Homo sapiens: one gene and its partners. The protein of the gene in region 2 interacts with the protein of the main gene of each other region in a biochemical or structural test. Each region holds a gene or a part of one and is shown on either strand. Other genes may lie near its edges. The genes, in order: AZU1, CFP, TXN and CTSG.

What was found.
Region 1: the proteins of CFP (region 2) and AZU1 form a complex in vitro, tested with the Homo sapiens proteins (one study listed by IntAct).
Region 3: the proteins of CFP (region 2) and TXN form a complex in vitro, tested with the Homo sapiens proteins (one study listed by BioGRID).
Region 4: the proteins of CFP (region 2) and CTSG form a complex in vitro, tested with the Homo sapiens proteins (one study listed by IntAct).

Annotation. Positions count from the first base shown.
Region 1 is NC_000019.10:823,428-830,871, forward strand, and holds the start of AZU1 (azurocidin preproprotein), read left to right. Parts: upstream 1-4,409; 5' UTR 4,410-4,419; coding exon 4,420-4,477; intron 4,478-4,802; coding exon 4,803-4,959; intron 4,960-6,134; coding exon 6,135-6,279; intron 6,280-7,280; coding exon 7,281-7,444. UniProt on the Homo sapiens protein: This is a neutrophil granule-derived antibacterial and monocyte- and fibroblast-specific chemotactic glycoprotein. Binds heparin.
Region 2 is NC_000023.11:47,626,931-47,634,456, forward strand, and holds the start of CFP (properdin precursor), read right to left. Parts: upstream 3,001-7,526; 5' UTR 2,915-3,000; coding exon 2,839-2,914; intron 2,745-2,838; coding exon 2,594-2,744; intron 1,348-2,593; coding exon 1,172-1,347; intron 712-1,171; coding exon 541-711; intron 403-540; coding exon 211-402; intron 17-210; coding exon 1-16. UniProt on the Homo sapiens protein: A positive regulator of the alternate pathway (AP) of complement. It binds to and stabilizes the C3- and C5-convertase enzyme complexes. Inhibits CFI-CFH mediated degradation of Complement C3 beta chain (C3b).
Region 3 is NC_000009.12:110,243,274-110,246,515, reverse strand, and holds the end of TXN (thioredoxin), read left to right. Parts: intron 1-1,672; coding exon 1,673-1,738; intron 1,739-2,296; coding exon 2,297-2,359; 3' UTR 2,360-2,706; downstream 2,707-3,242. UniProt on the Homo sapiens protein: Participates in various redox reactions through the reversible oxidation of its active center dithiol to a disulfide and catalyzes dithiol-disulfide exchange reactions.
Region 4 is NC_000014.9:24,573,236-24,580,683, reverse strand, and holds CTSG (cathepsin G preproprotein), read left to right. Parts: upstream 1-4,433; 5' UTR 4,434-4,460; coding exon 4,461-4,515; intron 4,516-5,229; coding exon of another isoform or gene 5,230-5,271; coding exon 5,272-5,419; intron 5,420-5,873; coding exon 5,874-6,009; intron 6,010-6,184; coding exon 6,185-6,439; intron 6,440-6,873; coding exon 6,874-7,047; 3' UTR 7,048-7,166; downstream 7,167-7,448. UniProt on the Homo sapiens protein: Serine protease with trypsin- and chymotrypsin-like specificity. Also displays antibacterial activity against Gram-negative and Gram-positive bacteria independent of its protease activity.

The DNA of each region.
Region 1 (7,444 bases), on a different chromosome or scaffold from region 2:
GGAGACTCTATCTCAAAAAAAAAAAAAAAAACAAACAAACAGTGACTCCAGAGGGTTGGAGCCCTGCTAGATACCTTAGTTTGCTCATAACAGGCACTGCTGCCCCCGGGAAGAGGGTCGCCTGCCATAAATGCGGAAACAGTTAAATGGCGATGGGAATAGGATGGGAACTCAATGGTGTTGCTACCTTTGGATGGACTCGGAGGCAGCCCAGCTTCCTGGGACAGGACTGCACGGACTGCCTGGGGAGGGGTCTTTGGCCCCCCGGTTCCTGCAGGGGGGCTCGGGGAGGCCCTGTGAGCAGTTGGTCACAGGTGGGTCCCATTCGATGCGATCCTGTTCCTCCCCAACAGCCCTGGAGAAGGGGGACGTTGCCTGCTGTGGCTGCGGCTGTTTTCCTGGCCTGTGAGAGGCGGGGCCAGAGTGGCCGTTGGGAATCTGGGTGTTGCAAGGTGACCACAAACAGCTCTCTGGGGGAGGAGGAGGAAAATGCAATTGATTTTCAGGAGCCTTCTGAGGTCAGGAGTGGGAGAGTGTGCAGGGGGACCCTCCTGGCAGCTTGGGGGTCCAACAGAAGATCTGGGGGAGTCTCAGGGTCTTCTCCCCCTAGGATCACCAGTGGTGGAGATGGGGCAGGCCTGGCCATGGAGGGCACGTTGCTTGGCTGAGGGGCCTGGGCTTGAGTGTGGGGCCTGGGCTTGAGTGATGGGAGAGTTCCGAGCAGGCCGGAGGGGTTGAGCGTACCAGACGCTGCTCAAAACTTTTATTTAAAAATGATTATTATTATTATTACTATTATTTTGAGATGGACTCTTGCTCTGTCGCCCAGGCTGGAGTGCAATCGTGCGATTTCAGCTCACTGCAACCTCCCACCTCCTGGGTTCAAGTGATTCTCCCTCCTCAGCCTCCCGAGTAGTTGGGATTATAGGCGCCTGCCACCACGACGGGCTAATTTTTGTATTTTTAGTAGAAAGAGGATCTCCCCATGTTGGTCAGGCTGGTGTTGATCTCCTGACCTCAGCTGATCTGCTGCCTCAGCCTCCCAAAGTACTGGGATGACAGGGGAGCCACGGAGCCCAGCCTTTTTTTTTTTTTTTGGGAGACGGAGTTGCACTCTGTCGTCTAGGCTGGAGTGCAGTGGCGCGATCTCGGCTCACTGCAAGCTCCACCTCCCGGGTTCACGCCATTCTCCTGCCTCAGCCTCCCGAGTAGCTGGGACCGCAGGCGCCCAGGACTATGCCCGGGTAATTCTTTTGTATTTTTAGTAGAGACGGTGTTTCACCGTGTTAGCCAGGATGGTCTTGATCTCCTGACCTCGTGATCCGCCCGTCTTGGCCTCCCAAAGTGCTGGGATTACAGGCGTGAGCCACCGCGCCCAGCTTTTTTTTTTTTTTTTTAATAGAGAGAGGGTCTCACCATGTTGCCAAGGCTGGTCTCAAACTCCTGGGCTCAAGTGATCCTCCCACCTCGGCCTCCCAAGGCACTGGGATTACAGGCGTGAGCCACCACGCCCGGCCTCAAAAACTTTTCAGAATATGAACCCCACTCCATGCTCAGCACTGTTCTGTCTAGAAGGCAGAGTCTATCCCTGTCTCAGGGCACACTGACGTGCAGACAGCGAGCTCGCCCTGAGGTCATGCGACTGGGAGGGACAGAGCTTCCGGCTCCCGGCAGAGGGGAAATGGGGCCTGGCCCACGGGAGAGCTGAGGCCCACGTTTGGCCAGGACAGGGTGGATGGAGGCTGGGGCCTCCGCAGGGAAGATGGACAGGTAGGATCCGGGGTGGGCAGAGAGGGAGAGCTGGCTTGGACGGAGGCAGGGATCTGGGGGCTGTGCCATGGACCCTGTGAGGTGGCTGGGCTGTGAAACTCAGTGGAGACCGGAATTATTATTATTATTATTATTTTTTTGAGATGGAGTCTCACTGTCTCCCGGGCTGGAGTGCAGTGGCACGATCTCGGCTCACTGCAAGCTCCGCCTCCTGGGTTCACGCCATTCTCCTGCCTCAGCCTCCTGAGTAGCTGGGACTACAGGCGCCCACCACCACGCCCGGCTAATTTTTTGTATCTTTAGTAGAGATGGGGTTTCACCGTGTTAGCCAGGAAGGTCTTGATCTCCTGACCTCATGATCCGCCCGCCTCGGCCTCCCAAAGTGCTGAGATTACAGGTGTGAGCCACCGCTCCCGGCCTGGAGACCAGATTTGAGCCCTGGGACCCTACATTCCCGATGGGCAGCGGACCTCAAGGCACACCGGCCCCGCCTCCCTGGACTCTCCCCGTATCCGCCCCTTGGAGGGGCAAACTGCCCTCAGAGGGCTCCCACAGGCCCAGACACAAACTGGTGTCCCCAAGGGTGTGGGGGACACGGTAAGCTCCAGACCTCAGTTTCACCTTGGAAATGAGCCCCTTTGTAAAAAATGGAGGTGAGTTTGGACGCAGTAGCTCACACCTGTGCTCCCAGCACTTTGGGAGGCCGAGGCAGGTGGATTGCTTGAGCTTAGGAGTTTCAAACCAGCCCGAGCAACATAGTGAGACTCCACCTCTACAAAAAAATACAAAAATTAGCCGGGCATGGTGGCATGTGCCTATGGTCCCAGCTACCTGGGAGGCTGAGGCAGGAGGATTGCTGGAACCCGGGAATCGGAGGCTGCAGCGAGCTGAGATCGTGCCACTGCACTCCACCCTGGGCAACATAGTGAGATCCCATCTCTACAAAATATACAAAAATTAGCCGGGCACGGTGGCGGGTGCCTGTGGTCCCAGCTACTCGGGAGGCTGAGGCAGGAGGATCAGTTGAACCCAGGAGATTGAGGCTGCAGTGAGCTGAGATGGTGCCGCTGCCCTCCAGCCTGGGCAACAGCGAGACCTCAACTCTGAAAAAAACAAAAGAAGGAGATGAAATTTACATAACTTAAAATTAGCCATTTTGAACGGTACAGTGAAGTGGTTTTCGGTGCATTCACCGACTTGTGCAACCATCACTGCTGTCCAGTCCCAGAACATTCCATCACCCCAAAGAAGGAAGCCCCATCTCCATCCATCAGCCATCACCCCCTGCCCTCCCCCGGCCCCTGGCAACCACAGATCCACTTCCTGCCTCTGCAGATTTGCTTGTTCTGGACATTTCGTCTATTTATTTTTATATAGTTTTTAATTTGTTTTTATTTATTTTTTTTGAGACGGAGTCTCTCTGTGTCACCCAGGCTGGAGTGCAGTGGCGCAATCTCGGCTCACTGCAACCTCCACCTCCCAGGTTCAAGCGATTATCCTGTCTCAGCTTCCCAAGTAGCTGGGACTATAGGCGCCCGCCACCACGCCCAGCTAATTTCTTTTTTTTTTTTGAAATGGAGTTTTGCTCTTGTCGCCCAGGCTGGAGTGCAATGGTGCGATCTCGGCTCGCTGCAACCTCCGCCTCCCAGGTTCAAGTGATTCTCCTGCCTCAGCCTCCTGAGTAGCTGGGATTACAGGCATGTGCCACCACGCCCAGTTAATTTTGTATTTTTAGTAGAGATGGGGTTTCTCCATGTTGGTCAGGCTGGTCTTGAACGCCCAACCTCAGGTGATCTGCCTGCCTCGGCCTCCCAGAGTGCTAGGATTACAGGTGTGAGCCACCGCACCCAGCTTGTCAATTATATCTCAATAAAGCTGTTGAAAAAGTTTAAAAAAATCACCCAATCGGGCACAGTGTTTCACACCTGTAATCCCAGCATTTTGGGAGGCCGAGGTGGGTGGATCACCTGAGGTCGGGAGTTTGAGACCAGCCTGGCCAATATAGTGAAACCCCATCTCTACTAAAAATACAAAAAATTAGCCAGGCGTGGTGGTGGACAACTGTAATCCTAGCTACTCAGGAGGCTGAGACAGGAGAATCACTTGAGCCTGGGAGGCGGAGGTTGCAGTGAGTCGAGATCACACCATTGCACTCCAGCCTGGGCAACAAGAGCGAAACTCCGTCTCAAAATAATAATAATAATAATAATAATAATAATCACCCATACAGACGCGCAGGACTCAACGCAGGACTGCCAGCTCCACTGCCCTGAGCCCCCCGGTGCCAGGCCCAGCGGGCAGTGCTGGAGCCCCAGTGGCTTGGGATGGGGAGACTGGGACTCTGAGCTGGCAATGTTCCTGGGTGCTGGCTGCATGCCCGCCATGTGCTGGGCTCCGGGATCCACTGGTTCCTGACACCCTCACCTGCCCCTGGGGGTGTGGCCATCTTCTAGAGAGGGAAACTGAGGATCAGTGCAGAATGTAGGGGGAGCCCAGGCTGGCCCAGGGAGCAGTTGGCGGTGGAGGCCTTGGGCAATTTCCCGTGTTCCCACTGAGTGGGGCTGTCCCTGGGCCTGGGCGGGGACGCCACCAACTGCCAAGGCCTGTGTATAAGGGCAGCCGCCGCCTTAGCCACAGACCTGCCCCGCCATGACCCGGCTGACAGTCCTGGCCCTGCTGGCTGGTCTGCTGGCGTCCTCGAGGGCCGGTGAGTGCCTCTCTGTGCCGGTGGTCCCCCATCTGTGCTAGGGCCCGGCTGCCAGGGCAGAACTCAGACTTAAAGCACAGAGAAGGCAAGCGGCTTGGCCTGGGTCACACAGCCAGCCCGGCCTGGACGATCCCGCGAAAGGCGTGAGGGCGGACGGTGTGCGGGACTCAGGGGCCCCCTGTCCTCTTAGGGAGTGGGACGATGGGGGAGGGTGGGTCCCCCCGCAGCCCCACTGGGTGGATAGAGCTGAGGCTGCAGCTTCACACGCCCTCCCGGCCACTGTGTGGATTCTTGGGGATCTCAGAGCTGTCTCCCCCCGACCCAGGCTCCAGCCCCCTTTTGGACATCGTTGGCGGCCGGAAGGCGAGGCCCCGCCAGTTCCCGTTCCTGGCCTCCATTCAGAATCAAGGCAGGCACTTCTGCGGGGGTGCCCTGATCCATGCCCGCTTCGTGATGACCGCGGCCAGCTGCTTCCAAAGCCAGTGAGGGGTCCTGGGGAGGGGGCCTAGGGGGCATTGGGGCTCAGAGAAGGGGCTTGGGGGGCTTAGGCATTCAGTGGGGGTGCTTGGTAGGTGAGGAGGGGAGGGGATTGCAAAAGGAGGGGCTCAGGGAAAGGAGGGGGCTTGGAGAGGGAAATGGGGACTGAGTTGAGGAGGGACCCAAGGATATTGGGGGGCTCAGATGGAGGAGGCCCAGAGAAGGGAAGGGGGTCAGATGGAGGAGGCCCAGAGAAAGGAAGAGGCTCAGATGGAGGAGGTGCAGTGAAGGAAAGGGGGTCAGATGGGGGAGGCCCAGAGAAGGGAAGGGGCTCAGATGGAGGAGGGGGCCCAGAGAAAGGAAGGGGCTCAGATGGAGGAGGTGCAGAGAAGGGAAGGGGGTCAGATGGGGGAGGCCCAGAGAAGGGAAGGGGCTCAGATGGAGGAGGTGCAGAGAAGGGAAGGGGCTCAGATGGAGGAGGTGCAGAGAAGAGAAGGGCCTCAGATGGAGGAGGTGCAGAGAAGGGAAGGGCCTCAGATGGAGGAGGTGCGGAGAAGGGAAGGGGGTCAGATGGAGGAGGTGCAGAGAAGGGAAGGGGGTCAGATGGGGGAGGCCCAGGGAAGGGAAGGGGCTCAGATGGAGGAGGGGCAGAGAAGGGAAGGGGGTCAGATGGGGGAGGCCCAGGGAAGGGAAGGGGCTCAGATGGGGGAGGCGCAGAGAAGGGAAGGGGGTCAGATGGAGGAGGTGCAGAGAAGGGAAGGGGGTCAGATGGGGGAGGCCCAGATAAGGGAATGGGGTCAGATGGGGGAGGTGCAGAGAAGGGAAGGGGGTCAGATGGGGGAGGCCCAGATAAGGGAAGGGGCTCAGATGGAGGAGGTGCAGAGAAGGGGAGGGGGTCAGATGGAGGAGGCTCAGAGAAGGGAAGGGACTCAGATGGAGGAGGGGGCGCAGAGAAGAGAAGGGGCTCAGATGGAGGAGGAGGCGCAGAGAAGGGAAGGGGCTCAAGATGGGAAGGGGGCCCTGGAAAGTCTCGGCTCTGCTTCTGTAAAAGCGGGGGAGTTTTCAGGGTGAAGGATTGCAGTCTGCAGGCTGGGATCCCCCCTAATTTGCAAGCCGGCTTGCTCTGTGCCCAGGCCCCAGCCTGGTGTCCTCCCTCTGCCCTTTCCTCCGCTACTCTCAGGAACCCCGGGGTTAGCACCGTGGTGCTGGGTGCCTATGACCTGAGGCGGCGGGAGAGGCAGTCCCGCCAGACGTTTTCCATCAGCAGCATGAGCGAGAATGGCTACGACCCCCAGCAGAACCTGAACGACCTGATGCTGCTTCAGGTGAGAGGATGGTGCCACCTGTGATCCCAGCACCTCGGGAGGCCGACGTTAGCCAGGGAAACAAGTCCAAACTTGGTCTCTACAAAAAAATACAAAAATTAGCCGGGAGTGGTGGCGCGCACCTGTGGCCCCTGTGCTTCAGGAGGCCGAGGCGGAAGGACGGCTTGAGGTCAGGAGTTCGAGACCAGCCTGGGCAACATGGCCAAACTCAGTCTCTACAAAAATATATATGTGTGTGTGTGTGTGTGTGTGTGTGTGTGTGTGTGTGTATCTTGCCGGGTGAGGTGGCTCATGCCTGTAATCCCAGCATTTTGGGAGGCCGAGGTGGGCGGATCACGAGGTCAGGAGATTGAGACCAGCCTGGCCAACATGGTGAAACCCCATCTCTACTAAAAATACAAAAATTAGCCAGGCATGGCAGCGGGCGCCTCTAGTCCCAGCTACTCAGGAGGCTGAGGCAGGAGAATCGCTTGAACCCGGGAGGCGGAGCTTGCAGTGAGCCGAGATCGCGCCCCTGCACTCCAGCCTGGGTAACAGAGCCAGACCCTATCTCAAAAAAAACTTCCAAAAACAATACAGCAACACATACAGATGTACCACGGTTCGCGTATGGAGCCTCCTGTTGGTGGAGACTGACGTCGTTTTCAAATGCTTTTGCTATGACAGAATCATGTGAATGTTTTTCATGTTTGGTTTTTTTCTTTGAGAAAATGATAAAATTATCTCAAAAATATCATTAAAAAATTTAAAAAAGTAGAGACGGGGGTTTCACCTTGTTGGCCAGTTTGGTCTCGAACTCCTGGCCTCAAGTGATCCACCCACCTTGGCCTCGCAACGTGCTGGGAATACAGGCGTGAGCCACCGCACCCGGCCCCTGCCGGGAATTAAACGCAAACCACTTACAGACTACAGTTAATGTCGCTGACACTTCTGCTCCCAGGGGTCCCCATGAGGCTCCAGTCCCCAGGGCCACCCTCCCCTGACTCCATTTCCTTCCCCAGCTGGACCGTGAGGCCAACCTCACCAGCAGCGTGACGATACTGCCACTGCCTCTGCAGAACGCCACGGTGGAAGCCGGCACCAGATGCCAGGTGGCCGGCTGGGGGAGCCAGCGCAGTGGGGGGCGTCTCTCCCGTTTTCCCAGGTTTGTCAACGTGACTGTGAC
Region 2 (7,526 bases):
CCCCAGCCCCCAGCCACTGTTGGAGGAGGAAAGGGAGTGAGGAGAAAGGCCTCCTCAATCCTTCCTCTCAGCCCCTAGACCCTTGAAGCAGACTGTCCCCAAATGAAGGGCTGCATGGTCACATGGCCTAGGAACTCTAGAAATGGCAGAGCATCTCTGCCCTCAATCAAGAGCCCCACCAGCAACATCAGCAGCCTCATCCTGGTGTACCTGGGCAGGGTGGCAGGCCGGTGCACCTCCGCTGCTCGTAGGCTAGCCCCGGGCAGGGCTTCCCAGGAGGTTTCTGGGAGGGCTCAGGTGCAGAACACTTGCGGCTTCGTGTCTCCTTAGGTTCGTGGGGTCCACCGTGGCAGGAGGCTGAGCAGGGGGTCCAGGGGCCCCAGGTGGCCCAGGCCCCGTGTGCTGTGGTGGGGTGGGAGGTGGAGGGATGCAGGTGTGGTCATGCATGCTAAAGTCCTCTCAGCCTGGCAGTTCCCTGCTGTAACCCCGCAGACCCACGCTGGGTGCACCCATCAGCATCCTGTGGCTTCCCTCACTCACTGGGGCAGACCTGCTGGGTGTCACAGGCCTCTGATTCCTGTGCCTGTCCTGGGCAGTGGCCCCCACACTTGGGAGCAGGGTGATTACAGGCTCGCCTGCGGGTCCGGGTCCCTTTGGAGCAGGTGACAGAGCAAGGCTCCCAGGGCCCCCAGCCAGACCAGCCGCCCATCTCTGTGGGAGAGAAGAGAGGGTAATGGGATGGAGGTGGGGTGTCATTCAGGGCTCTTTGCTTCCTTGAGTGCCCCACATGAGCTAATCCTGTCCTTATATCCTCTGCCACCATTCTGGGCCCACCATCCCCGCTCACCGGGCCTGCCGCAGCAACCTTCACATGGGTGCCTCCGCTTCCCCTCTCACCCTCACCGTGCACAGTCTGTTCTCCTCCCAACCCCAGTCAGATCACGTTCCTCCTCTGCCCACAGTCCAAATTACTCAGATGAAAAGCCAACGTCCTCTCTGTGGCCCCCAGGCAATGGACCCTCCTCACCTCTCTGACCTCACCTCCCACCACTCTCCTCCTTAGGTCCTTACAAACACTGGGGACGGGCCCACTCTGAGGACCTCTGTACCGATCGTTCCCACCAGTGCTGGGTGACAGGGAGTGCTTGCCCGCCTTGCTCATCCTCCTCACCAGGACAGCACTGCTGGTCCTCACAGGCCTGGAGCTGCCACTCCAGGGTCCCAGGTGCCACCTTTCCAGAGCACTGCCCATTCCAGCCCACACAGCGCCGGTACCGCAGCTGGGAGCCCTCAGAGCACGTCACCGAACAGGGGGCCCATGTGGACCACAGGGACCATCGTGGGGACCTGTGGAGAAGAGCACACACATCCCATCCTGGCATGAGCTAACAAGAATGGCATGTGGGACTCCAGAGTGTGGGCAGACACGAAGGGTTGCTAGGCAAGTGCGTGTGCGATGGATTGATAAGTCCTTACCTTTTAGGGATATTGGGATACTGATGGGAAGCAGTGGATATACAATAAGTGCTTGATAATGTCATTTACCTTCACAATCAGGCATCTGGAGTTACCATTGGAAGGCTGCATGGCCAACACCAGGTCCGCAGTAAGCAAAGGTAAGGACTAGAAACCAAGGGCTGCTGTCAGAAACCCACCAGATCACCACACTACACGGTAGTAGGTAAATAGAAAGTGCTTAATAAACCTGAGCCATCATCCCTATGACCTCAGAGGCCTCCTCAGAAATAACCCCAGATCTATCCCCAACCCACTGCATAGCCCTAGGTATGCTGTTCATGCCAAATAGATGTGATGAACTGTTGACATGACTTGGGGCCCAGAGCTGCCCTCAAAAATCCCCAAGCTCCCCATGCCCACGGTGTATCTGGGATATATAGTAAACAAGTAGAAAACAGGTCTGGCATACGGTAAGGGCTCAATCCATGCAAGCTGGAAATCATGATCAGGAGACTAGAGCTACCCTCAGAAATCCTCAAGCTCATCTCCCAACCCTGCCATGCAGCTGGTATACAGGGAGTGCTCAATGAATGTGAAGTGTCATCATAATTAGGGGCCTAGAGCTGCCCTTTGAATTCCCCAAACTTTCCCGCCCCCACAGTGTGTCCATATACAGTAAGCACTCAATAAACATGAGCTGTCATCAAAATTAGGGAAATACCAAGCTGCACCCCACCTGCAATGCTTCCAGTGTGCAGGAGGTGCTCAATATGTGTGAGCTATGTCAGTGGTTCTCAATCAGGGGTGATTTTGACCCCCAGGGGACATTTGGCAATGTCTGCTGACATGTTTGGTTGTCACAGCTGGTGGGGAGAATTGCTACTGGCATCTAGTGGAAGGCTAGGGGTGTTACAAAACATCCCACAATACACAGGTAAGCAATCCCCTCCCCCAGCCAAGAATTTCCAGCCCCAAATGTCAATAGTAACAAGGTTGAGAAACCCTGAGGTATGGTCACGATCAGGGCCTCAGGGCCACCCTTGGAAGTCCCAGAGAAAGAAAGTGCCCAGTTTTGGGTGACCCCCACAGACAGTCCTTCCCTCCCCCCCATCCCCCACCCCAGGCTCCCCCTAACCTGCAAGGCTGACAGAGCCCACCACTACGTTTCTGGTAGGCAAAGGCAGTGTTGAGACAGCAGTCTTCCACGCTGACACCACCCCCCAGGAGGCCCTTGCACTTGCCGGAGGATTCTTCATACTGGGTGAAGCAGAGCACGGGGTCTGAGCCTGTAACAGGGCCAGGGGATGGGTGGGTGGGGCTCGGTCAGGGATGTGGTGGGCCTGGACACCCCTGGGGCCAGCTGGGCCCTCACCCCCTCACCTGTGGCTGGCAGGGTGAGCAGCAGGAGCAGCGGCGGCAGCAACAATCGAGGGGCCTGCGCTCCCTCTGTGATCATGTTGAGTACTGCCCCCTGCACCTCTACCAGAGAGGAGGTCCCGCTTTATCTGGGTTGATAGGCTCCTGGAATCAGCAGGGAAAGAGGAACCTAGAGGCAGGAGGAACTGGGAGGGCATCCTGCTTTGACCCCACCCTGTCCCCTCTGCCTCCTTCTCTACTCTCCCCTCCCCATTTCCTGTCTTACTCTTGGTCTTGTTCTGTTTGTTACTATATCCCCAGCACCTCGCGCTCCTCCCAGCAACCTCACAGTGTTCAATAGAAGCTCCTAGGACAAATTCTCACCCAGAGGAAATGGAGCATAGGAGCGTGCAGCAACTTCCTAGCCGTGTGACCTTGGGTGAGTCACTTAACACCCCTGAGCCTCAGTTTCCCTATGTGGAAAATGCATAATCTCTAACATAATGACGGGGTCAACCTCGTGGGGGTGTTGAACCAGGGTGAAGTGAGTGTGCGGTGCTCAGTATGTTCCTGCTCGTGGGGGTGGAGGGAGCATCGAGTCAGTTGCTCCACCTTCCACCCTCCCTTAACCTCGGCCCTCCTTTCCTGAGAGGTTCCCTGTGGTCAGCTTGTGGTCGGGGAGGTCAGCACAAGGGAAGTGAGAAAGGGAAGTGGCAGGAGCCTGGGGAGGGATTCAGGAGGGGAATGGGGTCTATCCATTGTTCCATGGGCCCAGCTGGGGACAACACCAGGGTCTGGGGTGATTAGGAGGGAATAAGCTGGGCCATATTCCATCAGAGAACCCTCAGGCAGATAACACCCCCCTTCTGGAGCCTGTTTCCCCTCTGTAAAATGTGCTCACAGACAGCACCTACAACATAGGTAGGGTGTGTTGCAAAGATTGCGAGTTAAGCTTTTGTTTGTTTTGTCGAGATGGAGTCTCACTCCGTCGCCCAGGCTGGCGTGCAGTGTCACGATCTCGGCTCACTGCAACCTCTGCCTCCCGATTTCAACCAATTCTCCTGCCTCAGCCTCCTGAGTAGCTGGGATTACAGCCGTGTACCACCATGTCCAGCTAATTTTTGTATTTTTAGTGGAGACAGGGTTTCACCATGTTGGCCAGGCTGGTCTCGAACTCCTGACCTCAGGTTATCCACCTGCCTTGGCCTCCCAAAGTGCTAGGATTACAGGCGTGAGTCACCGTGCCCGGCCAGGAGTTAAGCTTTTGGAAAGTCTTTAGAACAGTGCCTGGCATATAGTAGGTGCTCTGTGTTTGATAAATTTATTCAACATTTATTGAGCACCTACTGGATGCCAGATGCGGTTCTTAGCATTAGAGCAGAGAATAGGACAGACAAAAATCCTGGCCCTCGAGAAGATGGATAACAAATGTTGCCCCTCCTCACAGAGGCCTTCCCCATACCCTTGTCTGGCATCCCTGTCACTCTCTAGCCCAGTAGCTTCCAAACCTGTTTTTTTGTTTGTTTTGTTTTAAAGAGACAGAGTCTTGCTGTCACCTGGGCTGGAGTGCAGTGGTCTGATCATAGCTCATTGCAGCCTCAAACTCCTGGGCTCAAGTGATTTTCCCACCTTAGCGTCCCCAAGTAGCTGGGACTACAGGCACACACCACCACACAACTAATGTTTTTATTTTCTGTATAGATGGGGTCTCGTTGTGTTGCCCAGGCTGGTCTCAAACTCCTGGCTTCAATATTTTCTCCCAACCTCAGCCTCCCAAAGTGCTGGGATTACAGGCATGAGCCATCACACCAGCCCTTCTTTTTTTTTTATTTTTTTATTTTTTTTTTATAAACCCTAATGAAACTCCAGGGCCCACTTTAAAATTTTTATTTTGCTTTTAATTAACAAAAAGAAGCACAAGAAAGATAGGAAGGCAATGCCTAATTTCCTCTGCTCTCAGGGAGGCAGAGGAATTCTGCAAATTCAAATGTAATAATTTGGTCAGCTGTTAAAACAGAAGTTCTTCAGGAACACTTGTTTTATGGGCAGTAAAGTATGTGTTAATATCTGTATCCATTACAGACATACTCTGTTCTCTGATAACATAAGGCTATCCTTGAAAATGTGCTTTGAACAAAGGAGTCTTATTAAGATTCTACGACTTCAAGACAATCATTGCTGTGTTATCCTGTGAAAACACTCTCCAAGAGACCTGAAACTGGCCAGGCATGGTGGCTCACGCCTGTAATCCCAACACTTTGGGAGATTGAGGCAGGTGGATCACCTGACGTCAGGAGTTCGAGACCAGCCTGGTCAACATGGTGAAACGCCGTCTCTACTAAAAATACAAAAATTAGCCAGGCGTGGTGGCGGATGCCTGTAATCCCAGCTACTTGGGAGGCTGAGGCAGGAGAATCGCTTGAACTCGGGAGGCAGAGGCTCTAGTGAGCTGAGATCGTGCCACTGCACTCCAGCCTGGGCGACAGAGTGAGACTCTGTCCCAAAAAAAAAAAAAAAAAAAAAGAAAGAAACCTGAAATTCTGGCTGGCTTCTTTATTTAACCACCTGTTGCCCTGGTAATAATATTAACAATATTTCCTTTGTTTCTAAACTGTATAAATACTCATAGGATTCCCTGTGGAAGAGGACTGTCAGCACTCTATCTTTTCCCACACGTTTAGGCAATAAAATGACTGCAGATTCCTTAAACAAAGAGTGAGAGTCTTGTCTTATTTAATTATTACATCCCTACCTGCTACTATGTATTTGCCTGCTTCTTGTTATTCTCACTCCCTAAATATCAGTTCCACAAGGGCAGGGATTTTTGTCTGGCTTGTTAACTGCTGGGTCTGCAGGGCATTAGATAGGCACCAGGAAACAGTGGATGCTCAATAAACATCTGCTAAATGAATCAATCAATGAAATAAACAAAACTTTAGAGATTACGATAAAATGCCAGAAGGACAGTCTGAGTTAGAGGTAAAAATGTGGGCATCCCATGGAGGATAAGTAGTATTTCAAGTGTGAAGACCTGGATAAGATGACCTAGAGAGGATGCGTGAGAAGAGAGAAGGGAATCCCAGGGCTTTGCCCTGGGGAACCCCAGCATTTCAAGTTTTAGAGAAGTAGGAGAAGCCAGCCCAGCGGACTGAGCAGGAGGGGCCTGTGGAGGAACAGGAAAAACAGAAGAGGGTTTTTCTCCAGGGCCTGGAACATTCGAGGGTCTGCAGGGCATTAGACCTCTCACACAGTCTCATTTGGTCTGTTATTTTCTCTCTCTCTCTTTTTTTTTTTAAACCTATCTACACAGTTATGTTTTTCTTTTCTTTCTTTTCTTTTCGAGACAGGGTCTGGTTCTGTTACCCAGGCTGGAGTGCAGTGGCGTGATCGCAGACTACAGCCTCAACCTCCTGGGCTCAAACCATCCTCCCACCTCAGCCTCCCGAGTAACTGGGACTACAGGCACACGCCACACCTGGCTAATTTTTTAAACTATTTGGAGAGACAGGGTTTTGCCACATTGCCCAGGCTGGTCTCAAACTCAAACTCCTGGGCTGAAGCGATCCTCCCAACTCAGTGTCCTCAGTAGCTGGGACTACAGGCATGCACCACTATACCTGGGTAATTTTGTTTTTTGTTTTGGTAGCGGCAGGGTCCTTCTATGTTGCCCAGGTTGGTCTCAAACTCAAAATCCTGGCCTCAAGTAGTCCTCCCACATCAGCCTCCCATGTAGCTGGGATTACAGGTGCACAACACTACGTTATGCTAATTTTTTAAATTTTTAGTAGTGACGGGGTCTCACCATGTGGCCCAGGCTGGTCTCAAGCTCCTGGCCTCAAGTGATCCTCCCACCTTGGCCTCCCAAAGTGCTGGGATTACAAGCATGAGCCACCGCACCCAGTCCGGATTTACAGCCTCTACTATATTCTCTTAATCACACAGCCTCTCAGACATTCTGTCACTCATAGTCATTTTCTGTGTCATGGATTCCAGCCTTACTACAGTCTCCTAACAGTTTCACACACACAATCATGTTTAACAGCCTGTCTCATTCAGTCAATATTGCCAATAGTTTCTCTCACCAGTCAGTTCCTTACATACACGTGCAGTCACACAATCTCATGAAACGTTTAGGCACTCATTTGGCCTGTTACTTTCTCACATACACAAATAGTCACTGATTTATAGTCACCACTAACTAGTCTCTCATGAAGTTTCCCACACATGCACAAAAATCACCTCTCCTACCCCTTTCTCACTCAAGCCACTTTTTCACACACCCACGATCCCTGATTACAGCCTCTCCCACAAAGACATTCACACGCATACACAATCACACAGTATCTCAGACACTGTCGTCACCTAGTCTCACGTTTCTTCTCAATCAGCTTCCAGTACCCTCAGTCCTTGATTTACAGCCTTTCATAAAGTCTCTTGCAAAGGGTTTACCCATGGACACACAATCCGTTTCTCAGCCACTGTCTCAGTCATCACTGTCCCTCAGTCAGCTTCTGATATACTCGGTCAGTATTTCACAATCACCACTAGGCCCTCGATAAGTCACCCACAGTCACCCATGCCCTCTCAGTCGTGCACACCGTCATTTTCTTCATATGGTCAGCTCATCACGGACACACGTGCACAGCTTTACAAGTTTCTCACACACTGTCACGTGGTCACTTGGCATGTCTCATTTGCTCAGCTCTTTTGTA
Region 3 (3,242 bases), on a different chromosome or scaffold from region 2:
CCTCTTTTGAGTGCCTGGCTGACATTTTCAATCTCTATTGGGCTCCAAACCAAACCAGTTTCGTGGTATTGTCCTCCAAACCTTGCCCTCTTATAGCATGAACAATGTGTTGAGCATGGGGTATTATAAGAGTTCTCATTTAGCATTCCACAGTTGAGGAATGTGTGTTACTTCAATTACCTTTGAGCTGTAGAAAAATCTTTAGCTGTGGTAACAGCCACTTCTAGGAGAGGAGAAAATACGGATCAACTAGCCCAATTTGCGATGTTAGGAATTTGTCGATTTTCTTAGTAGGATGGCTTTCAAAGGTTAGAGCATCAGAGTCACCTGAAGCCCGACTTTAACTGTAATGGTTTAAGATGGGGTTGATGGGGAAACTTGTAGTACCCCTCAGGTAATTCTGATACTGCAGCAAGGTTTGAGAATTCACAAAGTCTTTTTATTTTTCCTCCCGAGATAGTCTCATTCTGTCGCCCAGGCTGGAATACAGTGGCATGATCTCAGCTCACTGCAACCTCCGCCTCCCAGGTTCAAGCAATTGTCCTGTCTCAACCTCCTGAGTAGCTGGGATGACAGATGTGTGCCACCACACCTGGCTAATTTTTGTATTTTTAGTAGAGATGGGGTTTCTCCGTGTTAGCCAGGCTAGTCTCGAACTCCTGACCTCAGGTGACCCACCGGCCTTGGCCTCACAAATCAGTTTTTAATTAAAAATAAGCAGGAGGCTGAGTGTGGTGGCTCACACCTGTAATCCTAGCACTTTGGGAGCCCGAGGAAGGTGGATCACTTGAGCTCATGAGTTTGAGACCAGCCTGGGCAACATGGAGAGACCTTGTCCCTATAAAAAAAAAAAAAAAAAAATATATATATATATATATATATATATATATATATATAGTGTGTGTGTGTGTGTATATATATACACACACACACACAAAATTAGCCAGGTGTGGTGGCGTGTGCCTGTAGTCCCAGCTACTGGGGAGGCTGAGGAGGGAGGATGGCTTGAGTCTGGGAAGTGGAGATTGCAGTGAGCTGAGACTATGCCCCTGCATTCCATCCAGCCTGGGTGACACAGCCAGACCCTGTCTCAAAAATAATAATAATCAGTAAACCCAGTGTGGGGTTATTCCTTTAGATTACTATTATTTTGTTCTTGAACAATTGATTTTTATTTTTTTAGACTTTTTAGCCTTTATATAATCATTCTGTGTACTCTGCCTTCATAATAAAACTGGAAAAATTATGAGCAAGAAATAAGAGGTACTAGTTCTGAGGAATAGTTAAGATTATCATACTGAGTCCAATTGTAGCAGAATTTTTTGTTGCTTCTTTGTATGATACTTAAAATAGTTGAAAATTTGATTGGATTAAAGAGCATATTGGATCGCTGGAGTATCTGATGCTAGTAACATTCTGAACATTCTGCCTGTTAATGTGCCCGTCAAAGGAAGTAAATATTAATAAAACTTCTTCATTGAGAATATAACCGGTTTGGCTTTTGTAATGCCATTATATTCATTATATTAATTTTCATATGCTGAAAAATGTCCTCATGCGGAAATGTGGGGTACATGACAGGGAAAAGTTTCTGGTTTTGGATTACTTCTGTCAAAGCTCAGTACTCGCAGTCTTGTATTTAATCCTCTCCCTTTGCTACTTTCCCTACCAGGATGTTGCTTCAGAGTGTGAAGTCAAATGCATGCCAACATTCCAGTTTTTTAAGAAGGGACAAAAGGTACGTACATCTGACCTTTAAAACTCTAACTGGGCAATAGGAAACCCAGTATAAGTGAATAAATCACTGGAGTGATGTTCCCTTTAAAGATTGAGGCATATCACCAAGTTCTGCTTTTAAGAATTTTTAAATATGCCAAAATTCATTGGCTTAAGTACATAATGTGACAGCTAACTGAAAATCAATCTTTCCTAGAACTAGTCCTATTTATATCATAAAGCACATAGAATTTCTTAGACTTGGGCAGTTCATTTGTTGTTAAGTATTGTGTAAAAGAAAATTTGTACTTGAGCCTTTTGACTTTTCTCTTGATATTTTTTCTTTGTTTATAACTTAAATGAACTGTATGTTATTCAGGGAAGTTTACTTTAAATAAGATTATACTTCTTTTTCCCTCCACCCCTATTCTTCCTTCATTCTATGCTGAATACATATTTATACATATGTATATATATACATATGTATATGTATATATATAAATACATATTTATACATATTTTATGTATAAAACAGTGCTACAGTGCTACGTCTAATGTCAATTCAATATTCTCTTAACAGGTGGGTGAATTTTCTGGAGCCAATAAGGAAAAGCTTGAAGCCACCATTAATGAATTAGTCTAATCATGTTTTCTGAAAATATAACCAGCCATTGGCTATTTAAAACTTGTAATTTTTTTAATTTACAAAAATATAAAATATGAAGACATAAACCCAGTTGCCATCTGCGTGACAATAAAACATTAATGCTAACACTTTTTAAAACCGTCTCATGTCTGAATAGCTTTCAAAATAAATGTGAAATGGTCATTTAATGTATTTTCCTATATTCTCAATCACTTTTTAGTAACCTTGTAGGCCACTGATTATTTTAAGATTTTAAAAATTATTATTGCTACCTTAATGTATTGCTACAAAAATCTCTTGTTGGGGGCAATGCAGGTAATAAAGTAGTATGTTGTTATTTGTTATCTTTTGACAGAGAAAATAGCATTCTCTGTTTTAGCAGGTGAATCCTCTATGCTCTCCAAAAGATCAGCATGACCAAAATTGATGTCCACTCATGAAGGACTTGTTCGTTTTGTTTGTTTGTTTTGCCACGAGGATCGGATCTTGATTCTCCTCGAAGTATCTGAGAAAGTCTAGTTGTATAGGCCAGACATAGGTTCTGTCTTGAGTGGTAAAAGTTGTGGGAAATTATTACTTATATCATTCAAAGAACATTGTTTCTTGTGTTCTAAGCACAGTAAGGGGTTGGGGGTTTGAAGAAACTTTTTGAGTTTACATAATAATGAAGAGCAGAATTATCATATGCCAGGTATCATCTTTCTATTAATTCACTTAATCTTTGTAACAATCCTATTAGATATAGACACTATAATCCCCATTTACCTGTGAGGAAACAGACAAAGGGTGGTAATTTCCCCAGCATCACAACTAGTCATTGGAGGAGCTGGGATTTGAACCAAAGAAGTCTGGTACCAGAATATGTGCCTTTAACTACTAC
Region 4 (7,448 bases), on a different chromosome or scaffold from region 2:
ATCTCCACTTACAGCAACCTCAGCCTCCCCAGTTCCCCAAGCGATTCTCCTGCCTCAGCCTTCCGAGTAGCTGAAGTTACAAGTATGTGCCACCATCCTGGCTAATTTTTTTGTGTATGTTCCTAGTAGAGACAGGTTTTCACCATGTTGGTCAGGCTGGTCTCCAACTCCTGACCTCAAGTGATCGACCCGCCTCGGTCTCCCAAAGTGCTGGGACATGGGTGAGCCACTGCACCTGGCCAGATTTCTGAGTTCTTTATGTAATTTGAATATAAGCCCTTTGTTGTTTATGTGTATTTCAAGCATCTTTGCCTACTCCATGAATGGTCTTTTGTTTCTCTCAATTTAGATGTGTCAAATTCATCAGTCCTTTTCTTCATTATTAGTACTTTATATACAGTACTAAAATCTTTACCTATCATGAAGATATTCTTCCATTATATATTCAAATCATTATTCCTACTTGGATCCATAATCTACCTAGAATAGGTTTTTTGATATTTTGGGAGAAGAAGGTCAAGTTTTATTTTTCCACATAGAAAATATTTGTCTCTATAGGACACCATAAAGGCAATTTATTATCCCAGTACCATTTATTGGGGATAAAAAAAGAAAATAGTCTTTTCCCTATTATGATGAAAGATGCAACATCCATCATAAATCAATCCATCCATGTGTATGTCAGCGTCCACATGCGTGTGGAGTCCTTATTTCTGGTCCATTAGTCCATGTTTCTATGCCTCATCAATACCACGCTATCTTCATTCCCATGGCTTTGTTTGCAAAAGCAAGTCTTCCATCTTATTCTCATTCTCTAATGGTGACCTGGCTATCATTAGCCTTTTGTTTTCCAAATATACTTACAATCAGTTAAGTTCTATAAAATACCGCTCGGTGCAATGAATCTATATAGATCAATTTTGGGAGAGCTGACATTTTTACAATATTTAGTCTTCTTCCAATCTATGAACATGGAATCTCTTCATGTTTAGGTCTTCTTGAATGTCTCTTCATTCAGTTTTATAATTTTCACCAAAGAGGTCTTTCACATATTCTTTTAGATTTACATTTAGTTATTTGATCATTTCCATGCCATTTAAGTATTACTTTCTAAAAATTTCTTTCTAACAGTGTTGCAGTACATGTAGAAATATGATTAATTTTTAAATTGATTTTTTCTAGCAAATCTGTAAAACTCTTATTAATTATGGTAATTTACCTGTAGATGATTTTGGATTGTCTACGTATACTATCACTTCCTCAAATCATTACAATTTTGTTTTCTCTTTTCCTGTCTTTATACCTTTCATTTCCATTTCCTACCTAACTGCACTGGCTAAAACTGCTAATGTACTGTTTGTTGAACAGAACTGATAATAATTTGTATTCAGGCATTATTGTAATGTTTTGCTCTCAAAAAAAGGTTTTAACACTTTTCCATTAGGTATAATGATTGCTGTGGGAATTTTGTGATAACTTCTATCAGATTAAAGACACTCTTTTTATTCCTAGTCTGCTAAGAGTATTTTTTAAGTAAATAAGGGTAAATTTTAGGCCTTCATTGTTTCAATTAAATAATCACATGATGTTTCTTCTTTAGTCAGTTCATATGATGTGTTACAGCAATTTTGCTTTTCAAATGAAAAGTCAACTATGTGTTCCTAGAATAAACCCAAATTACTTATGATATATTAATATCTATTTGCTTATTGATTGATTTGGTTTGCATCAATATTCAAAAGTTTATTGACCTATAATGTTTCATTTCTATATTGTCTCTATTGGGTTTGGCATGGAGGTTATGCTAGTCCCATAAAGGGAAGGGTAGCATCCGTTCTTCAGAAGAAACTATATAGCATACTTTAAATATTTTCTACAGATTTCTCCTTAATGTGGTCATCAAAAACAAAAGTTGAAATTTTGTGGATTCAGCACATTCCCTTGGAACAATAGCAGCTTCCTAACTAGACTCTCATTATTCCTTCAACTTGATCTGATAGTCACTTCAATGCTGGTAGTTCTTCGAGGTTTGTAAGCTTTTTAGATATCTTAAATAGCTTTGATTACTTTTAATGAGAAGATTGCATGAAATTCTAGGTCACTATTAATGAAATTTCCTAATCAATCTTTATTACATGAGTGAATGCATATATTTTACTCCTTTTTTTTCATATGTGCAGGTTTTTCTTTATCCCTTTCTTCTATTTTTAAGTTAAACTAACATTTTTAAAACAAAACAAAATGTTGAAAATTTTTAATAAATTAAATTATGCCAAATGCTAAGGCACTAATAAAGGTGCTATACTATTCTCTCTTTGCTCCCTTCTTCTTCACGTTACTTTTCAGATGCATAAAGACGTTTTATAGAGCCTGTACAAGAGAAGAGGTTAAGCTCTGTGCAGCTCTAAAAATAAGTGAAAAAATTATATATTTATGTATAAGGAAAGGAACCCTAATTTTCATGAGATTTTCAAGAGGGCCTATTATACTCCATAAAGACTGGGAATTGTATCTCACACCAATCAGAATGGCTATTACTAAACAGCCAAAAAATAACAGATGCTGGCAAAGTTGCAGACAAAAGAGAACACTTATACACTGTTGGTGGGAGCAGTTCAACCATTGTGGAAAGCAGTATGGTGATTCTTCAAAGAGCTAAAAGCAGAACTACCATTCGATCCAGCAATCCCATCACTGGATATTTACCCAGAGGAATATAAATCATTCTACCATAAAGACACATGCACGCAAATGTTCACGGCAGCACTATTCACAAAAGCAAAGACACGGAATCAATCTAACTGCCCGTCAATAGACCAGATAAGGAAAATGTGGTACATATACATTGTGGTACATATACATATGCAGTCATAAAAAAGAATGGACTCATGACCTTTGCAGGGACATGGGTGGAGCAGGAGGCTATTAGCAAACTAATGCAGGAAACCAAATAATACATGTTAGTTAGCAAACTAATGCAGGAAACCAAATAATACATGTTCTCACTTATAAGTGGGAGCTAAATGATAAGAACTGTGAACACAAAGAAGAAAACAACAGACAGTGGGGTAAGAGGAGGGAGAGGAGCAGAAAAGATAACTATTGAGTGCTGGGCTTAATATCTGGGTGATAAATATGTACAACAAATCCCCGTAACATGTGTTTACCTATGTAACAAACCTTCACATGTACCCCCAAACCTAAAATAAAAGTTAAAAATAAATACCTAAGTAAAAGATTTTCAAAATAAAAGACAGAAAAAAAGAGATTGGGAATTGTATTAGTCTTCAATTCTGCTATTTCTGCAAAAATTATACTGGATTATAACGGTTTTCTGTGCATACACAGAATCTTCTAAATATTTTAAGTGTTTTTAATAATCCATTGTGTTACTCTGCAGTAATTTGCTGTTCTTTTCTCCCATTGTTGAGTATGCGGCTCTAATTCTTTTATAGGTAGCACAGCAATGAATGTACCTCCTTCTCAGAAGCTTTTGCTCCTGGGATTAGGTTGATGGGCCTCTAATGTCACCAGTGAAATGGGATATTAGATATTTTCCAGCTAGGATACGACAGCTCCCAATAAAACCAAATTACTAAGCCTTTTCTGCAAGCAAGGAGCCGTCTGGAACATAAGGACTTTAACCTTGGGTAGGAGACAGGCAAGCAGAAGTCTTCAATTGTGTCACAATTTTCACTGAGGACTCAAGTGACCTAAGAAAGTAATTGTGATTGTCAGAGCCTTGTTCTTCCTTTTCTTTCTCCAGCCGCACGCTTCACCTACTCAGGAGAGTGCCTACGCAATCTGACTTGACAGCTTCTAGAAAGAAATTAGAGCAACAGGGGTCTCAGCAGGGTGGTCTTGGGCCAAACACTGAAAGCAGGCAGGCTTACCCTTTCCTCTTCTGCCCCCTTCAACTTTTTCCTGATGTTCTTACCCACATCCCTCACCACACCACACCCTTTCATTCATCCTTGTCCCAGACTTATTAAGTATATACAGATAAGCAATCCAGGGAACTTGCATTCATTAGGAGAAACCCAGAAATTCAAAAGCAATAATGATCTAATCCCAGAGGAGTAGAAAACAGGAAGTGGGCAGCTGCCAGCTTTCTTGCTTTGCTGGAGTATTCTGGAATTTGATGGGTTGAGGGTTCTGGACACAATGCCCCAAGCCCCTTCCTTGTTGTGCTGGGTTCCTATTTCTGCTCTCGGCACTGACTTAGCAGCTGCTCAAGAGCTCACTATGTTGGCTTGGATTACACGGTCTCACCCACATCTCCGGCAGTTTGTGGGCAAACTTCCTGAGCAGCCTTGGGTGATGAAACCTTTCATGGTAGCAGGAGAATGGGACTGTGAATTCTCAATCCCCTGTCCCCACCCCTTCCTTCCTCTCTCAGGGCCTTAAAGTCTAGGAGGAGGAAGCACAGCAGCAACTGACTGGGCAGCCTTTCAGGAAAGATGCAGCCACTCCTGCTTCTGCTGGCCTTTCTCCTACCCACTGGGGCTGAGGCAGGTGAGTGACCATCCCCACCCTCAGAGGCCTGACCTCATCCCATAGATTCTTGAGCCAAATTGCCTTGGTATATCCTAATTCTGTACTGTTGAGCAAGTTATTTGAATTTGTGTTTCCTCATCTATAAAATGAGAATAATATTAATACCGATCTTGCAGAGTTGCCATGAGAGTTAAATAAGTTAGAGTATTTAAATGTCTTGGAATTGCCCGCACACTATAAGTGCTATAAAAACATGCTTTGTGTAAATAATTTGGCAGCATGTGTCAGACCCTACCTAGGAGGTAAGAATACAGCAATAACAGTACCATCAGCTCATGTCTAGATTTTTAAACACCAGTCCCACGTGGTCTTGAATTGGACTCAGAGGGCTCTGGGAAGCTCCATGAGGATAAAAGTATAAGGGAACTTCAGGAACAATCCTGTACTTACAGCAAAGCATTCTCCTCAATACCTGAGGCTGAAGCTGGCCTTGCCTGGAACAAGGGTTGTTCTCCCTCTTTTGGAGAGGAGGAGGGAGGTGAGGCCTAGGATGGGGAAAAGGGCTCCTTTCAAGACAGCAGTGTTTCCTGTAGAACCCTGGAGCCCCCTCCCAATCTGCTGCCCCATAGACTCCAAGCCTCAGCACCATCTCCTCCCTCTCCTGCACCCTCTCTCCTGCCGTCCCCATCTTCCAGCCTTTCTGGAGCCACCAATCTGGTACCCACATTGCAGGTTCAGCAAGCATAGAGCTAAGTGCCAAATGCTTCCTTCCAGGGGAGATCATCGGAGGCCGGGAGAGCAGGCCCCACTCCCGCCCCTACATGGCGTATCTTCAGATCCAGAGTCCAGCAGGTCAGAGCAGATGTGGAGGGTTCCTGGTGCGAGAAGACTTTGTGCTGACAGCAGCTCATTGCTGGGGAAGGTGAGGAGCTAAGGAACTTCCTGGCCAGCCAGGAACACAGCCCTGCGGAGCTCTTCGGTGGAAGAGCCATCTGAAAGAAGAGTTGTAGCAATGAAAGGGTGAAAGAAAGACCAAGTGAGTCTTTGCGGGAGGGAACAGGCCAGTGTAAATGAGGAGGAAAGGAGGATAAGATCAAAAAGAGCAAGAGGAAGAGATGGAAGACACATATTGGGGCTCAAAATATAAACTCAGGCTATTTATCAACTTAATCTGGGGAAGCAAACCTGAAGGCAAGTACCACCCTGTCATCCCTAGCTCAGAGCTGCTGAGAAAGAGGATACAGCTGAGCCCCAGGGCCCTCCCATCCCCTCGATTCTGGTTAGCTGCAGTCTTGCCCTCCCCGTGCTGTCTGCCTACCCTGCAGAGCTGGTGGACCATAGCTCCTGCAGCCCAGACCTACCTCTTGCTTTTGCAGCAATATAAATGTCACCCTGGGCGCCCACAATATCCAGAGACGGGAAAACACCCAGCAACACATCACTGCGCGCAGAGCCATCCGCCACCCTCAATATAATCAGCGGACCATCCAGAATGACATCATGTTATTGCAGGTACCACCTACCTGGCCCTCTGGCTCCTTCCTAGTGTGTCCGGGGACAATGGAGGAGGAAGTGAGGGCAAGGCTCCGGGGTGGCGGGGAGGGCATGGGATGTGTACTGCACCAGCGACCCCCGAGCCTTGGCTGGAGGCCCCAGCTGAGCGGGAACGCCTACATTCTTCCTCCAGCTGAGCAGAAGAGTCAGACGGAATCGAAACGTGAACCCAGTGGCTCTGCCTAGAGCCCAGGAGGGACTGAGACCCGGGACGCTGTGCACTGTGGCCGGCTGGGGCAGGGTCAGCATGAGGAGGGGAACAGATACACTCCGAGAGGTGCAGCTGAGAGTGCAGAGGGATAGGCAGTGCCTCCGCATCTTCGGTTCCTACGACCCCCGAAGGCAGATTTGTGTGGGGGACCGGCGGGAACGGAAGGCTGCCTTCAAGGTAAGGCATGGGCATTGGCCAACACACCCCGGGAGAGAGGGGCCCGTGCAGAGCCAGGCAGTGCGAACAGATTCCATCCCCACAGCCTCAGCCTGGCAGCCAGACCAGGGTGGGCTGGGGATTGTTTTCCCCATCAACCTGGTCTCTGGGGGAATAGGAGGAAGACCCACAACACATACATAGGCAACATTCTCCTGGAGAAGGGAGAGGTACCTTGACTCAGATTGGGCTGGAGACAGTAATTAAGGCAGAGCTGAAGTCCAGCGACCGAAAAGATCCAGAGGCTTGGCTCCTGTACCCCACCGATCTTCCATCTCACACACACCCAGCAATTGAAGGGGCCCACCCACCCCTGCCTTCCCTGAGAGCCCGGAGCTCAGGGAAGCAGGAGCAGGGAGGCCTGTCTCAGTCTCCCTTCTCCTCTCTACCTACAGGGGGATTCCGGAGGCCCCCTGCTGTGTAACAATGTGGCCCACGGCATCGTCTCCTATGGAAAGTCGTCAGGGGTTCCTCCAGAAGTCTTCACCAGGGTCTCAAGTTTCCTGCCCTGGATAAGGACAACAATGAGAAGCTTCAAACTGCTGGATCAGATGGAGACCCCCCTGTGACTGACTCTTCTTCTCGGGGACACAGGCCAGCTCCACAGTGTTGCCAGAGCCTTAATAAACGTCCACAGAGTATAAATAACCAATTCCTCATTTGTTCATTAAACGTCATTCAGTACTTAGTTTGTTTGGATTGCTACAACAAAATAGCACAAATTGGGTGGCTTATAAATAACAAATTTATTTCTCACAGGTCTAGAGGCTAAGAAGTCTAAGATCAAGTCACTAGCAGATTCAGTGTCTAATTAGGGCCCATTTTCTGGTTCACAGACAACCATCCTCTCCCTGTGTCCACATATGGCAAAAGGGGCAAGGGAATTCTCTGATGTCTCTTTTACAAGGGACCTAGTCTCATTCAAAGAGCTCAGCTTTTACGACCTAATCACATCCCAAAGGCCCCACCT